Regions from separate parts of the Homo sapiens genome. Here region 2 is linked to region 1. The links come from fine-mapping of genetic effects on gene expression. A gene starts in region 1. The other region holds a variant in brackets. All regions are shown on one strand. Distances are between the middles of the regions. Region 1 holds the start of KIF21B (kinesin family member 21B). Region 2 overlaps KIF21B (kinesin family member 21B).

Region 1 (5,435 bases):
CCAGGAGCCCAGGCCTTCACTGAAGCGTTTCACAGCCAGCCAGCTTCGATCTCTTCATCCCAAACAGATTGCAGGGCCAAGAGCCTTAGGCCTGGCACTTCTCACCTAGTCTAATAGCCCTGGGACCTCTCTCCTCTACACACACACACACACACACACACACACACACACAATCAGACCACACCTGTCTCATTCCTGGCCTTCCCTGTCTGAAGAGCTGGACTCCAGGCTCGCTATGTTATTCTCATGGAAATTCAGAAGGCACTTCAGTTGGATTCAAGAAAGGACTTCCAGAAAGTCAGAAAGACAGCTGAACCTGGCAGGAGGTAGTGAGCCCTGGGGCTGGACTAGGCCCTGGACAAGCCTTGCCCTTCCCATAAATGGTCTACTGTAGTGCAGCCCACCACCCAGTCTTTCAGGTGAGAGAAGTGATTTCTGGGGGTGCTGCGGGGGAGGATGGGTAGAAGAGGATCTAAAAACAAGGAAAACTCCCCCTACAGCCCATCACTGGTACCATCTGCTCTCCTTCCCAGCCCAGCCCAGCCCCAGCTCAGTCCTAAGCTCTCTGATTAGAAACTGGGTTCTGTCCAGGCATTGTCTGCTGTACACGGCCGGCTGCCCATTGAGGTCTGGCGTGTGCCGGGGCTGGGCGCTCATGCTGGGGTGGGAGGGGAGGAGTGGGCGGGGCCCTTACCTTCCCGGAGACCCTGAAAGCCTGACTTCTGATGCTCAAATGCCCCACCCCCAATCCAGATCAGCAACTGAAAGGCAAGGCGTGGGGGCACCCAGACCCCACTTAGGGCAATCTGACTGGGAACCAGAGATGACACACATGGTCCTGAACTGGGTGCAGAGGGCAGGCATGATCCCTTCTCTGCAGAAAGGGTCCCGGGAAGCTTCTAGAGGTGGCAGTGGGAAGAGAACATCAGCTTCTCCTCACTGTGCCAATCCCATGAGGCTCCCCGGGTGGGAGTCCCACATCTTTTCAGCCCCAGTCCAGCCTGGAGACCTGAACAGAGGTAGGGGGCCTTTGTTTAGCTCTCTCCAGCAAGATGGAATCTAAAGGAAACCCCCTGTGGAAAGGGCACCCCCAAGCCCCTTCCTTCCCAGCCCTCATTCACAATGGGTGGGGGCCAGAGCTTCATTTCCCTTTTATGGTGTTCTCGGACTCTCCCAATCTGCTGCAGATGCCATATTTACATTTCTCACTCCCACCCCCCAGCCATGCACCCCTCCCTCGACCTCCACAAGATCCTGCTGCAATGTCAGCCCCAGCAGCAGCCTGGCCCCGCCCCAGTCAGCCCACCAGGCACCTGCAGGGCTCCTCTTTGTCTCTGGCTGCTCAGGGCCAGGAAAGCTGTGCTCAAGTGATTCTTGAGTGCTGCCTAGGGTGCATGGGTGGGGGTGCCTCAATCTCCTTCCCTTCACCCAAGCACTGATCAGTGTCAGCTCCTCTTTGGGCTGCAGAGGCCTGGCCAGGTGGCCGTGGCAAGGGGCATCTGCCCTGGGGCAGGAAGAAGAAAGCTTTTTCATTGCCATCTCTGACTCTGTCTAGGAGCAACCTCCTAGGACCCCTGGAATCTGGGTCACATATGACCCAAGGGATCTAGAGACCTGAGAGACCTACCCTAGACCTGGACAATCCCCCGCCCCCTCCATCATACAGGGCTGGGGCAGAGATAGATGTTCTTGCCACATCCCTACCTTGGTGAGCAGCTCCAGATTGGCACTCTGCCGCCAAGACACCCCTCTCAAAGAGAAAAACCCAAAGCAAAAACTGGGAGAAGTGGTGAGGTGTGAAGCATCTCCACCCAGCACAAAGAACACAGATGGCTCAATTTCACAGCATTTCCTGCTCCTGCACCTTTGTGTACCCCTCCCAATAGAACCCACCCAGCCATGTCCTCTCCCTGTCTCATTTCTGCCGGCTCAAGTCCCGGAGCTGTTGAGAATGGAACCCCAGATAAGTCTAGGCAACCCTCCCCTGCTCAATTTTATCTGAGTGCCTGAGGATGGGGCATCTGCATCACACCCTCCTGCCCTCTCAGAGAGAAGCACCTCAGATACACCTCTTCCTCCCTTCCTAGGCCCATCTCCTCTTGGGACAGGACTGGTAGGATTCTCCCCCAAAGCCATTGACTTCCCACAGAAGGCCAAGGCATCATCCCAGCTTTTCCGTTGGTCCCCGCACCCGATCTTTGTCTGCAGATCTGGCTCCCAGGGTGGGTGTGCTGCCTTTGCTAGCTGGACCAAGAGCACATAACTAGCTGACTCGCATGGATGAGGGGAAATTTCCCTCTCTGGTATCCCCGTATGAGACAGCAGCCTCGTGGGGAGGCGAAGAGGAAACGCACAGACGCTCCGGCCTGGGCCAGAGCTGGGTGTGAAATACCGGATTTCCTTGTTTATTCGATTTTCTGATCATTAAGGGCTCCCAAGAGGGGCCCAAAATTACCACCCAAACAAAGCCACCTTCCAGTAGTCGGCGGGGTCGCCGCTCCCCTGCGGCAGACTGGCCAGCGCGCGGCGCCCTCCATCCCGTCCCACGCCGGCCCCTCCTCCGGGAGTGCAGGCTCCAGCCCAAGCGGTGCTCGCGCCCCCCGCCCAAAGCCCACGCGAGACAAAGCCCGAGGCTTCTCCGCGCGCCCCCTTCCCCGCCCCGGGTCCCTACCTGACGGCCACCTTGACGCAGCAGTCCCCCTGGCCGGCCATGGCCCTCTGGAGCTAGGGTCTGGGCGTGGATCAGAGGCGGGGGTCTGGGGGCCAATGCCCGAGGCAGCGGCTGCGGCTGCGGGAGGCGGGGGCGCGGGCGCGGCTGGCGGAGGCTGCGGCGGCGGCGGCTGGAGGTGACATGCTCGCGGGCGGCAGGCCGAGGGGCTCACCCGCGGCCGGCCCCCCGGGGCTGGGCCCGCGCGCCTCCTCGCGCCATCGGGCGGCGGCGCGGAGCTAGCTGACAGCCGGCGGCGCGACCCGCCGCTCCCTACGGCGCGGCACACGCGCACACACCTCCCACCCGGCAGCCACCTCCCGCCGCAGCGCGAACAAAGGGGGCGGGGGCCGATCCGGCCCCGAGCCCGCCCCGAGCCAGCCCCGAGCCCAGGCCGGGCCCCGCCCCGCCCAGGAGCCGCCAATCGAAAGCCCTAATGAGCAGTGGGGGCGGGACTCGCGCCTTTAAAGGGACCTCTTGGCTCGCGGCCACGGGGTGGCTGGGGGTAGGGGGCGGGATTGAAGGGTGGGGGTGGGGGTAGGGGTGGGAGTAGGGGTGGGGGCGCTGGACGCAGACCACGTTAGAACCTCGGCTCCTGGAGTAGCAGAACCTCGGCTTCAATGGGACCCTCATTTCATAAATGAAGAAACTGAGATTCAAAGAGGGGAACTACCGAAGGTTACAGAGCGAGTTCGTGGGTAAGCATGGTAAGAACCCTGGTCTCCCGGGGATCCCACAGCGATTGACGGTTTATAGTTCAAAAGAGCCAGGAAAGCTTCCCTTCTGCATTTATTCCAGTAAATTCGCCAACCCTTCTCGAAGGGAGTTCTTGCTAGCCCCTAACTAAAATTTCCCCCACCTCCACCCTGCAGCATCTTAAAGCTCATGTTTTAGTTGATTCCTGGCCAGGCTCCTAGCCCAAGACTAGCCCCTCCCTACTGCTAGACGACTGTCCCATTGACCTTTATGACCCACAGATGACCCCACTGGGCCTGGCTCACACTCTGCTTGTTGTGGCTGTGGGGCCAGAGGGTCAGTGTGGGAGGCCTGAGCTGCCCTGGGGGAAAGGAGGGAACAAAGGGGGCCCTCAGTTCCGAGCACCTGGGTAGAGAGGCTGGGCGGTGAAGTGGGTGGGGAAGGGAAGGAGGGCAGCTGCCTGCAGGAATGGGTATAAAGGACAAGGAGGACCATGGAGACTTTAACGCTGGGCCTGGATGGAGGAGGAGACCAGTGCTGCAAAGTCACAATTCCCTTCCCAGTCCATCTCCCTCCCTCTGAGCCCAGACGCCTCTTCCCTGCCCCCTGCCTCCCAACATTGGGGCCATTCACAGGGCCCCTCACCAGCTGCCCTCACTTCACCCAGCTCCCTCCCCTGGAAAGGGCCCAAGAGGAGGACCCAGCTGCAGCCCCAGATGTGGATGGGGATCTCTGGGGGAGGGGAGGAAGGGGAGTCTGACTCCAGGCCTCTTACATTACCCTCAGATGATGAAACCATGTCAGAGATTTTGGCAAGGGTGTGGACTGGGGTCTGAGGATGCATCTGTTGGTACCATCTTCCTCCCCTTCCCTCCTCCACTCACACCCCCCTCCCCGCCAATAACTGCTTCATGCAGTAGCTCAGATCCCTGTTTGGCTTGACCTATTAAGGTCAAATCAAAACCAAAGATAATTTCAAGGGCAAATTTCAAGGGCCAATCAACACATCCTTTTCATCCCCATGGCAAACAGGAGGAGCACCGCCAGCAGTGCCCCCATGATGGGGGCTGGAGAAGAGGTCTTGGTGGTATCCTGGACCTTTTATTAGCATTTGAATCTAGAGGAAGCTCTCCCTGGGGCCAGGGGATCACCTCTCCTGGACCAGGAGGTTAGCAGAATGTTGCAGTCATATCCTGCAACATTCCTCCCCATCTTCCAACCAAAATAATTCGTGGGGAGGAGACTAACACATATGGACCACCTACACAAGGTATTTTATGCACATATTCTCATTTTTTCCCTATAACCTTGTAAGCTAGGCTTTTTTATTCTTTTTAAATTTTGCAGATGGGGAAACTGAGCCTCACATGTATGAATTCCAGCATATAAGCAACAGACTCCAGATTTGGACATGTATATCTTATTCCAGGCTTCCCAGATGACCACCAAGGTGGAAGGGATGATGATGTCCAGGCAGAAGGGAGCTAGGCCGGCCCAGGCTTTTCCTCTAGGCACAGCGGACTCCAGGTTCAGCCTTCCCGGATGGTAATGTTGCATTCTGAAGAGCTACTTTCCCGCCAACTCATCTCTGGACTTCTCTGGGGCCCAACTCTGGTTTCCTGCCTGCAGGAGGTCCCCTCTGACTTCCGACAGTAGATGACCCTTCTGACTCACAGTTCTACTGCTGGGAAATGCCTCCAGAGCTGCTGCCCACCCTCTCTGCATCCCTCCAGGTCACTGGGTGTTGAGTCAGGGGAAGCAGGGATACACACGGGCGGGAAACTCAGGTCTCCTAAATGTCAGAGCCTCAGGACTTCGGCTACTCAGAAGTAGCTCCCTCCTGGGCCACCAGGGAGCAGCAGGGCAGCCAGCATCCAGACATCCCCCCTGGGTTCTGCTGCTCAGAGGCTAGATGGAGAACCAAGGTGGGAAAAAGGCTTAAACCACAGCGTGGGGAGATTTAGGTTAGATGGGTCAGAGGAAGTTTAGGACAAGCCTTGCCCTTTTCAGTTTCTGTCCAGCTTCAGCACAG
Region 2 (5,000 bases), 36 kb before region 1:
GATTCCATATTTGGGAATTCACCTATTTATTAAAATGTATTTGTGGCCAGGTGCAGTGGCTCACATCTGTAATCTCAGTAAATTGAAAGGCCGAGGTGGGAGGATTGCTTGAACTTAGGAGTTTGAGACCAGCCTGGGCAACGTGGTGAGGCCTCAACTCTACAAAAAGTAAAAAAATTAGGCGGGCATGGTGGTGCATGCCTGTAGTCCCAGCTACTTGAGAGTCTAAGGTGGGAGGATCGCTTGAGCCTGGGAGGTGGAGATTGCAGTGAACCCTGATTGTGCCACTATACTCCAGCCTGGGTGATGAAGTAAGACCCTATCTCTAAAAAGAAAAAAATCCTCCTGCCTCCCAGCAAGGCAGGTGGCAAGAGGCCATCTTGAGCCCCTGCTTTCCCACTATTTAGCTGTGTGCCACCAAACCTCTTAATTAAGTGCATGGACCAGAAAACCCTGAAAGTCATCCTTCGATCTACAGAAGCTCTGTGGGCCTGGCCCACATGTGGGTGACCAGCTGGGGACTTCCCTGCCATTCTGCATTGATCTCTTTTTTCCTTTGAATTTCTTTCTTCTTTCTTTTCCTTCCTTCCTTCCTTTTCCCTCCCCCACTCCCCTCCCCTTCCCCCTCCCCTCCCCTCCCCTCCCCTCCCTTCCTTTCCCTTCCCTTCCCTTTTTTTTTTTTTCCTTTTCTTTTCTTTCTGAGACAGTGAGTCTCACACTGTCACCCAGGCTGGACTGCAATGGCGTGATCTCGGCCCACTGCAATCTCCACCTCCCAGGTTCATGCAATTCTCCTGCCTCAGCCTCCCAAGTAACTGGGATTACAGGTGCACACCACCACGCCCAGCCAATTTTTTTGTATTTCAGTAGAGACTGGGTTTCACTGTATTGCCCAGGCTGGTCTTGAACTCCTGAGCTCAGACAATCCACCTGCCTCAGCCTCCCAAAGTGCTAGGATTACTGGCGCCCGGCCTTTCCTTTAAATTTCTAATCTTCTCTCACACCATAAGGCCTTAAAAAGACCTGAAAGCTCCCCAGAACCTATGGTCATGAAAAGGGGCTGAAGCACATCAGTGCAATGACTAATCCAAGCCACTACAAAGCCACTTGTGTTGGGTGCACATCAGCAAACAGTTTCCAGCATCTGGCTCGGCTATGCAGTTTAAGGTGCGTTACAGAAATTACATTTCCTTTTTTTTTTCTTTTTTTTTTTTGAGACAGAGTCTCTCTCTGTTACCCAGGCTGCAGCGTAGTGGCACGATCTCAGCTCACTGCAATCTCTGCCTCCCAGGTTCGAACCATTCTAATGCCTCAGCCTCCCGAGTAGCTGGGAATACAGGCATGTGCCACTATGCCTGGCTAATTTTTATATTTTTAGTAGAGATGATGTTTCACCATATTGGCCAGGCTGGTCTCAAACTCCTGGGCTCAAGTGATCTGGCCATCTCAGCCTCCCAAAGTGCTGGGATTACAGGTGTGAGCCATCACGCCTGGCCCATTTCTTCAGTCCACACCTGACAGGGTGGGGAAGGGACCACTGGGTGAACCTGAATGGCTCAGTCAAGCTGGCCCAGGTTACACTGTGTACAAGATGATCAACAGAGCAGAACATCATAGCCACTCATGTAACCAAGAACTAGACTGGTGGTGACTCTGGAGCAGATTCTAGAACATGATCTCACCTAATGGGCTGCCCTCGGTCGTAGGACTTCCTTCTCGTCAGCGGGGACGTCTCTGTGGCTCGAGATTGCCTAGGGCTACAACAGAAGAGTCCAGTGAGGCCCAGACCCAACTCCACCTCCACTCCAACCCACATTCCTGCTCCCATCCTTACAAAGTGCTGCCCCGGGTAGGCAGACTGACGGTGCGCGAGACCCTGTCCCGGTAATAGGGGTCTCGGACAGAGAAGCCCACTCCGTCCTCTTTGATCTCAACGAGGGAGGCCAGGGACTTGGTGATGTTCTTGGTGGAGATATCCAGTGGGGGGCCCAGGCACTCAGCCGACACAGCTTTCATTTGGGCAGACAGTTTGGGCTCGCTCTGGGAAAAGAAGAACAGGGTGGATCAACTTGCCCAAATTGCATGGCACATAAAGGGGAGCCAGGGGAAATTCTATTTTTTTTTTTTTGAGACAGTGGTGCAAACATGGCTCACTGCAGCCTCAACTTCCTAGGCTCATGCGATCCCCTCACCTCAGCCTCCTCGAGCAGCTGAGACTACAGGCACGTGCCACCATAGCCGGATAATTAAAAATTTTTTTTCTGTAGAGATAGGGTCTCGCCATGTTGTCCAGGCTGGTCTTGAACTCCTGGGCTCACAAAATCCTCTTGCCTCAGACTCCCAAAGTGCTGGGATTACAGGCATGAGCCACCACACCCAGCCCGCCCGGAAATTCTAACAAGAGAAATGATGCCGTCTTGGCCTAAGGTAGAGGACCTGATGGAAGGACCCAGACAGACATCACCTGTGCTCCACAGCTAAACTCTTATGGTTTCTGGAGAATCCAGAGCAACTGAAATGGTTTCACGGCCCTTAGTTGGACTATGTAAACACAGAATGCCCAGCCTGACTTCTTTGCTGGTCACCAGCTAATCAGTTTACCTCAAAACTATGCATAATTTGCTATTCCCAGTCTGAAGCTTTTTCCCTCCTTGTCTCCTTAATAAACCCTGCATCTTGCTTCAGTCTAATGAAACTGATCCCTCATTATTAGGTAAACTTCCTTATTTTTGACTCCCATAT[G/A]GTTGAATTGACTGTGTGCACGTAAGATAACCAGACATTTAGAGGTAGGTTTTGACTTAGAGTGTGAGGCAGAATCATGGGTGGGGGAAAGGGGATATTTTTGAAAGCAGGGCCCCTGGTTATGGTGCTGTTGCTAGCAGGGTGGCAACAGAGGCTAGCGGTGGCTCCAGCCACTTCTCCCACCTTCCACCCACCTCAGAAGGAATGGGCTGCAACAGGTTACATATCTGGACAACCCCCAATTCCAGACTAAATTTTCTTGGCACCTCCCTCCCAGCTGGGGACAACATTGTGTTGTGGCTGAGGGTGGAGCAGAGCCACAGTAAGCGGTGAACAGGCTGTGTGGAGGCTGGCCCTGCTGCACCCACTGCCTGACTTCCGGCGGGGCTCACCTTGAACTTGAAATCGTCATGGCTGGTGGAGCCTTTCATGGTGAATGACTGGGAGAAGCTGAGGAAGAAGCAGAGAGAGTTCAGGATCCTGAGGAGCCCCCAAATTCAGGCTCAGCCCTGGGACCTATGGCAACTCCTCCCACCAGCCCCAGGTACATGCTGTGAGCCAGCCTCTCACTCCCAGCTTGCAAACTCACCTGCCCTCAGAGAACTCTGAGATCTCCTCATCTGTGCTGGCGTAGCCATTCTCTGTGGGAGGGCGGGAGGGAGGGAAAGGGGTTGAGAAGCCCTGTCCAAGTGTCGGGGGAGGGATGATGGTCTCCCTCCTATATCTCACCCACTGGAATCAGACCAGGGCTCCTGGTGGGGGTTAGGGGTGGTTCTGGGGAAGTGAGGGCCTTGTGGGGGTCTGAGCCCAAGAGCACTGGAATGCCAAGGAGCTGGCAGCTTCCAACCGCCCCTACCCGTACCCTGCTGCACATTGTAGATGAGGGCCTGCAGCTCGGGGTGAGCTTCAGCCTTCTCACGCAGGGCGTCCAGGAGCAGATGGTTCTGGGAGGAGCCTGCCATATCCGTCTGCCTCAGTCGGCCCTCCAACAGCCGGATCTGGGCTTCCTTTTGTGCCACTTGCAGCCCCTGGGGGCAGGGAACAAAGCCTGGAGTTACCCCTCCTGGGGGTTGGGAGTCACCCATATCACACAACCTGCACCCCTCAAGACACCTTGGAGTGCTCCTTTCCAGCTCCCAACATCACCCTTGTACCTGGCACAGACCTGAGAGCACCGCCAGCCCCCTTAGCTCCCACATACACACATTAAGTGAAGGTCACCTTAGGACATACCCTATTATGGGCTAGGTTATGTCCCCCCAAAACTCATATTCATCTACAGCCAAGGAGAGAGGCCCCAGAAGAAACCAGCCCTGCCAACACCTTGACCTTGGACTTCCTGCCCTCTCTTGTTTGAGGCTCCCAGACTGGTACTTGGTTATGGCAGCCCTAGCAAACTCATAAAGTCCCCAGACACAAAGCGGAGCTGAGAGGAGCTCAGTGGGGCCCAGAGGAGGGGTCAGGCGGCAGAGTCTCCTGCCTCCTTCCAGAGTTACACAGATGCACACCATGTAGGGTCTGTCCCCAGAGACCACAGGCCCCAGGAGGGAAGGAGGCACATCCTCTGCTTAGCTCTCTGTCAAGGAGAGAGAAGAGGAGCCCAAGAAATGTCGAGGGACACCTGATGTTCTGGTGTAAACCCTCCTGGGTGGAATGTGGTCTGTCTGTAGTTCCCCTACCCCCACATACACACACTTCTCCCTCCACCTCCAGCAGACTCAAGCCTAGCACTGCTTTGGATAGGCTTGGGCCAGACACCCAGAGTCAACTTTAACAGAGGCCCTGTTGTGTGCCAGGTGCCAGGCCACGTCCCTTACACACAGCATCTCGTTAAAGCCATGCAACAAGCTACAAGCTTGGTATGGTCGTCCTCTCAGCTTTACAGCTGTGGCATGGGAGGTGCAGAGGTTAGGCGGCTTGTCCTAGCCTGTGAGTGACGCAGGTGAGGAGGCGCCAGGCCCCTGGGCTTCACACTAGGGTATATCACAGAGGCATCTGTGCCCATAGAGCCCCCTGCCCATGTACGCTCCCAGCTTACCTTGTCAATGGATGCCTTGAGGAAGTTGTCTAGCAGGAGGCGGGCTTCAGCCAGGGAGCAGGAGCTGATGACCACGGATGTGTCTGTGGAGTCCAGCTCCTCCTAGGACCGGGAGGCAGAGAGCCCCGTCACCTGGGGCTACCCCTGCCACCCATCTCTCCCGCCTCCGCCCCAGCAGGCCCAGCCCTGCGGATACCTTGGTCTCCTCCAGCTGCACGAT

What was found. PIP is the estimated chance that this variant, and not a neighbour inherited with it, causes the effect. A credible set is the group of variants that fine-mapping cannot tell apart.
Region 2: its variant is the best candidate, but not a certain one, in a credible set for the expression of KIF21B in whole blood (INTERVAL, PIP 0.78).

Annotation. Positions count from the first base shown.
Region 1 is chr1:201,020,672-201,026,106 of GRCh38, forward strand. It overlaps KIF21B (kinesin family member 21B), which reads right to left and starts at 3,043. Exons shown (of 35, transcript NM_001252102.2): 1 at 2,672-3,043. The coding sequence starts at 2,712. LOC101929305 (a long non-coding RNA gene) reads left to right here and starts at 3,278. Exons shown (of 4, transcript NR_188464.1): 1 at 3,278-3,414; 2 at 4,833-4,948. RefSeq lists silencers at 420-569, 2,450-2,499, 2,900-3,259, 3,611-3,768 and enhancers at 800-929, 1,238-1,845.
Region 2 is chr1:200,985,162-200,990,161 of GRCh38, forward strand. It overlaps KIF21B (kinesin family member 21B), which reads right to left. Exons shown (of 35, transcript NM_001252102.2): 20 at 4,977-5,000; 21 at 4,781-4,882; 22 at 3,605-3,770; 23 at 3,332-3,383; 24 at 3,135-3,192; 25 at 1,835-2,040; 26 at 1,683-1,757. Among named protein-coding and RNA genes, the nearest start is that of KIF21B, 36 kb to the right of the region's middle. The variant G/A (reference allele first, on the strand shown) is at 2,743.